Linked DNA regions of Homo sapiens: region 1 is linked to region 2. Evidence: fine-mapped QTL for protein levels in blood plasma. Region 2 holds a variant in brackets. A gene starts in the other region. All regions are shown on their forward strands.

Region 1 (2,865 bases), not on the chromosome of region 2:
CTCAAAAAGCTCATACCAACCAGGAAAGAGCTATCAGAAAACCTTCAGGAAAGAATATAATGATAGGATATAACAAATACCCCCACAGCTGGTCCATAGACCAAAGTATAATTCCAAGTAGGGAATTTCACTTAACGAGGTAAGGCATTTAAGGGAAAAGGAATCTAGGCTAGGACTCTGCTAGCCAGACCCAGATAAATTATTACAGGGAAGCATGTTCTTGAGGCTATTCTCTATGAAGAAGGGCAACCCACCTTGCCATCTATATCCTTTCTGTTTTCGACAGGGGTGGTCCTAAGCTGGATAGATCTTTACTCTGACCAGTACCATATAGGTCTGTGGTTCTCAAACCTGGCTGCACAGTGTGGCACTTTAAGTAATCCTGATACCCAGTCCCATCCCCAAAGATGCTGATTTAATTTGTCTAAGGTGCAGTTTGGGCCTCTGGATTGGAACCAACCCATATACCCATCAATGATAGACTGGATAAAGAAAATGTGGCACATATACACCATAGAATACTACACAGCCATAAAAAAGGATGAGTTCATGTCCTATGCAGGGACATGGATGAAGCTGGAAACCATCAACCTCAGCAAACTAACATAAGACCAGAAAACCAAACACTGCATGTTCTTACTCATAAGTGGGAGTTGAACAATGAGAATACACAGACACAGGGAGGGGAACATCACACACGGGGGCCTGTTGGAGGGTGGGGGTTAGGGGAGGGATAGCATTAGGAGAAATACCTAATGTAGATGTTGGGTTGATGGGTGCAGCAAACCACCATGGCACGTGTATACCTATGTAACAAACCTGCATGTTCTGCACATGTATTCCAGAACTTAAAGAATATATATTTATATATGTATAAATATATATGAATATATAAATATAAATATATATATAAGCTCCCCACGTGATTCTAATGTGTGGCCAGTCTTGCAAACCTCAGGCTATTTATTCTAAAGGGTTTGTAACAAGCCTTCCTCTTAAAATCCACCCCACCACCATTCAGCGTTTTGGGGTCTGTTTGTTTTTATTGTTATCCCACCCCACACCGCCCCGAGGCGCGCGCGCGCGCGCGCACACACACACACACACACACACACACACATACACACACGCACACTGGTGAATTTCTCTCTACAGTCAGTCTGGAGTAATCCCAAAGTGGTGTCTTTCGTAAATAAGGAGAACCCGGGTGAAGAAAATGACTCCCACCCGAACAAGGCATGAACAATGTTCACTCCCTACTGTGTTATTCAACCTGTTTCCCCAGGTCTCTGTTTTCACATTAGAGAGTGTTCTAGGAGATGACGCCCTTCCTCCTTAGTTATTTCCCCACCCTCGTGCTGGCCTTTGACAGACCTCCCAGTAGAGGGCCCAAGACGCGGGTAGAGCACCGCGTCTCAGCGCCTGAGTCTCAGCCCCCGAACTCCACCGCACCTGCAGGTCCCCTTGGCAGCACTCAAGCGCGGGGATGCTCCGCTTAGACGAACTCACGTGCGGGCAGCAAGGCCTGCGATACTTGAGCACCCCTCCCCCTCTCCCGTTTACACCCCGTTTGTGTTTACGTAGCGAGGAGATATTTAGGTTTCTAGAAGGCAGGTCATCGCAGGCCCCACCCAGCAGTGGAGAGAGTGAGTCCCAGAGGGTGTTGCCAGCGAGCTCCTCCTCCTTCCCCTCCCCACTCTCCCCGAGTCTAGGGCCCCCGGGGCGTATGACGCCGGAGCCCTCTGACCGCACCTCTGACCACAACAAACCCCTACTCCACCCGTCTTGTTTGTCCCACCCTTGGTGACGCAGAGCCCCAGCCCAGACCCCGCCCAAAGCACTCATTTAACTGGTATTGCGGAGCCACGAGGCTTCTGCTTACTGCAACTCGCTCCGGCCGCTGGGCGTAGCTGCGACTCGGCGGAGTCCCGGCGGCGCGTCCTTGTTCTAACCCGGCGCGCCATGACCGTCGCGCGGCCGAGCGTGCCCGCGGCGCTGCCCCTCCTCGGGGAGCTGCCCCGGCTGCTGCTGCTGGTGCTGTTGTGCCTGCCGGCCGTGTGGGGTGAGTAGGGGCCCGGCGGCCGGGGAAGCCCCTGGGCTGGGTGGGAGGTCCAAGTCGGTCTCTGAGACACGCACAGGGGCCGGCGACTTGGCAGGTGGGGAGCTTGGCCCGCGGTCGTGGTTCCCGCCGTCCTGTGCCTTTAAGGCTCTCGCCGCTCACCAGCATTTGGGGCTCCTGCTGTGTCGGCCCCCAGCTGACTTGGCTTTAGGGGTCGGCGTGGAGGGTTAAAGAGGCCCCGGCTGGGTTTGCGGAGCAGCCAAGCCTGGCAAAATCGAAAGGGAGGGCTCAAAGAGACTGTATCCTTAACCCCCAAAAAGCTGGTCTAAAAGGATGGGAGGCCAGACCGCTGACCGTTCCCCACTCTCGACAGAGTCCAGCCGTGTGGAGCACACGATGCTGCAAACTTGCATGTCATCTCTTTCAGGTGTGGCATTTCAAGGGGGCTTGTGTCTTGAAAACAGCAACTGTGAGGACACTTGATAGTCATTTCCTTCAGTTCTGCTTTTGTCTCCCTAGGTGACTGTGGCCTTCCCCCAGATGTACCTAATGCCCAGCCAGCTTTGGAAGGCCGTACAAGTTTTCCCGAGGATACTGTAATAACGTACAAATGTGAAGAAAGCTTTGTGAAAATTCCTGGCGAGAAGGACTCAGTGATCTGCCTTAAGGGCAGTCAATGGTCAGATATTGAAGAGTTCTGCAATCGTAAGTTCTTCATCTTTTTAGAAAAGTTCTGGGAATGGAATGTATCTTAAATTTATTTTTATATACCTTTGGAGTGACTAGTAATTGATAGTTCTCTAGCG
Region 2 (2,912 bases):
GACTGCTGTGTCTAGCAGGGTTCTAAGCACTTTCACATACATAGGCATATTCACTTAATCAGACTTCACAGGTGCTGCATTATTTTTTTGTTGTTATTGTCTTTACTAATCGTGGCAACCTTGTGTTGGGCAAGTCTATTGGTGCCATTTTTCCAACAGTATGTGCTCATTCCATTGGCATTTTTTAGCAAGAAAGTATTTTTTAATTTTTTTTTTTAGAAACAAGGTCTCGCTCTGTCAAGTTCTGTTCATAGCTCCCTGCAGCCTTGAACTTCTGGCCTCAGTTTCCCAAGTGACTAGGACTATAGATGCACATGCACCATTCCCGGCTAATGTTTTCACTTTTTTTGGTAGGGGGTGAATCTCGCTATGTTGCCCAAGCTGGTTTGGAACTCCTGGCCTCAAGCAATCTGCCCGCCCCAGCCTCCCAAAGTGCTAGGAGCATAAGCCAGCATGGCTTTAATTAAAAAATACAAAAAAGTATTTTTTAATTAAGATATGTACATTGTTGTTTTAGACATAATGCTACTGCACACTTCATAGACTACAGTACAGTATAGTATAAATACAACTTTTGTGTGCACTGGGAAACCAAAATAATTTGTATGACTTGCTCTACTGCAATCCTCACTTTATTGCAGTGGCCTGGAACCAAGCCTGAAATATCTCCACATCTGTATTAACTCATTCAATCCTGGAGTTTGGTGCTGTTGTTATCCGTTATGTCCATTTTGCAGATGAGGAAACTGAGATCAAGAGAAGATACTGTATCCAAGGTGGCAAAAGAAGCAGAAGTGTGATTTGAACCCGGGTCATCTGTATTCAGGGTTCACACTGTGAAGATGACTCTGTGATTAGCAGAAGGTGGGGTGGGGTGGGACAGGGAGAGCACACATGAGGCTGGGGGTCTTGATGGGGCCCTGAACGTGGTGAGCCTTGTCCTTTCTGCAATGTGGACTCTGTTCCAGGATAGTAAGGGTCATGGGCATTAAAAGGAGGAAGGACATATTCGGATGCCCTTCAGGAACAAAGATTATCTGTAAATGCCCAAATGCTTATAGCTGGGCATGACTAGAATAAAAATTAGTCTTTTGAGAAGGGATCAATCTGTAGGTTGATTTCTGGAAGCACATAGAAAATTTCCATCCTTCTGATGGCCCCTCTCTTCTTGGGACATTGGCATTGTAAAGGCCTCTGGGCCTGGCCACAGTGGTTCACCATGGAAAGCCCCTTCTTTCTGGGAAGAATGTCTCTGCTGCAGCCAGACGGTCTTCCAAGCCGGCAAGGTGGGAGGCCTGGCTCCTGTTCCTGCAGCTCACTCATGTCCTGCCACAGGCCCATTTATCACGGGCTCAGTGAGGAACCACAGGGATAAATGCACCTGTCAATTACTCAGCCTTTACGATGGGCCAGACACCGTACCCAGCTTTTTGAGTCCTCGTGTCATTTGAGTCCTCACAGAACTCTCCCAAGTGGGTACTATTACTACTTCCTTTTTTACAGATGGGGAAACCAAGTCTCAGAAAGTGTTATTCCCACCTATTTC[C/A]TAAAATCTCTGAAACCCTGCCTATCCTCTGCTCTCACACCCGAACGGTCAACACAGAAGACTTCTGTGCCCACACACCATGCACCAGCTGGGTGTCCTCCAATTTAATTCTGACACCATCTACCTGGAGACAGGGTCAGTTCCCACAGGTTGAGAGATCAGTGCCCCAGACTGCCCCCAACTCCTACCCCAAACACAAGCCTCAAGTCCGGGTCTCTGCAACTTCTGACCAACTGGCTTCAAATTGGGTTCCCATGACCCCCTTTCTGGGCTCAATTAATTTGCTGGAAGGGCTCACAGAACTCAGGAAAACATATTTACTGGTGCAAAGGATACAGATAGAGAGATGCGTGGGGGGAGGTATGGGGGAAGGGGCATGCTACCCTCCAGGAACCTCCAGTGCTCAGCTATCTGGAAGCTCTTCCAACCCAGTCTTCTGGGGTTTTATGGAAGCTTCCTGACATCAGCATTCCTTCTCCCAGGGTACAGGGTAGGACCCTCTCTGGGGAGGATCTCAAGACCCACAGTCAGAAAGTCAGGGAAAGATTAGAGTCCTGTGTTAGGGCAGGGGAAGGAAGGCAGGAGAAAGTTGGAGACATCCTGTGTCCTGAGGCCTGCCACACCCAATATTATCACAAAAGGCTGTAACAAGGGCTACAAAAGAATGAGCCAGGAACTGTGGAGGAAATCCAATAATCATCCTAACACTACACTGCCTAAGCTCCAAGGGCTGGAGAAAAGCATCCAGGAGGGGTGCCAGGCTTGCAGAACGCCAGGCCCATTCTCTGGAACCCTCTACAGCTTGCACATCCCTGCAGCATCCATCTCCCCTGGGGGCCGGGATTGGCCCCACTGAATCAAGAAAACAAGGCCCTGCATGAATGAAGGTCACGAGGCTGGCAAGCAGCAGAGGCATCTGGAATCTTGTTCCTACAAACACAGGGCCCGGCTGTCTTGGATCTTTGAGCACCCAGGGAGGGCACTTCCTGTTGCCGGCTGCCATGGTTTCAGCTGTCCGGTGCCTGACCTTTCTAGAAGATGGTAATGATGAGAGTTGTGACTGCAAAGCCTCTAGCCAACAACTGAGAAGAGCTACACTCTGAGGTCTGGAAGGTCTGTGCGTCTTCTGCTCCATTTTACACATGAGACAATAGGGGCAGGGAGGGGCTGCATTTGAGGGCACTGCGGAACCATGGAGGGCTTCCGAAAGATCTCTCTAGTGAAAGCTGGAGGAAGAAAGTATAGGCAGAAGGAGCAAACAGCAGGCCAGACTAAGTTCCATGACAGCAGAAACCATGTTTTTGTTTTTTGCTGCTGTATCCGAAGTACCCAGCATGTCAAAGGCATTGAATTAAAACCTACTGAA

Direction of the effects. Alleles are on the strand shown, and positions count from the first base shown. The strength of an association depends on the size of the effect and on how common the allele is.
For the plasma level of the protein whose gene starts at base 1,875 in region 1, allele C in region 2 goes with a lower level than allele A (weak association).

Evidence for each region. A credible set is the group of variants that fine-mapping cannot tell apart. PIP is the chance, under the fine-mapping model, that this variant and not a neighbour inherited with it causes the effect. Protein levels are from antibody-based Olink assays in UK Biobank. Linkage for the fine-mapping came from a reference panel and not from the study's own genotypes, which makes the PIPs less certain.
Region 1: CD55 starts here. The variant in region 2 is the best candidate, but not a certain one, in a credible set for the plasma level of the CD55 protein (UK Biobank, PIP 0.61).

Annotation. Positions count from the first base shown.
Region 1 is chr1:207,319,804-207,322,668 of GRCh38, forward strand. CD55 (CD55 molecule (Cromer blood group)) reads left to right here and starts at 1,875. Exons shown (of 10, transcript NM_000574.5): 1 at 1,875-2,062; 2 at 2,579-2,764. The coding sequence starts at 1,963. It overlaps LOC107985251 (a long non-coding RNA gene), which reads right to left and starts at 2,326. Exons shown (of 3, transcript XR_007066838.1): 1 at 1,883-2,326. RefSeq lists an enhancer at 1,301-1,510 and a silencer at 2,071-2,150.
Region 2 is chr8:133,535,320-133,538,231 of GRCh38, forward strand. All of the region lies in intron 2 of ST3GAL1 (ST3 beta-galactoside alpha-2,3-sialyltransferase 1), which reads right to left. Among named protein-coding and RNA genes, the nearest start is that of ST3GAL1-DT, 34 kb to the right of the region's middle. The variant C/A (reference allele first, on the strand shown) is at 1,547.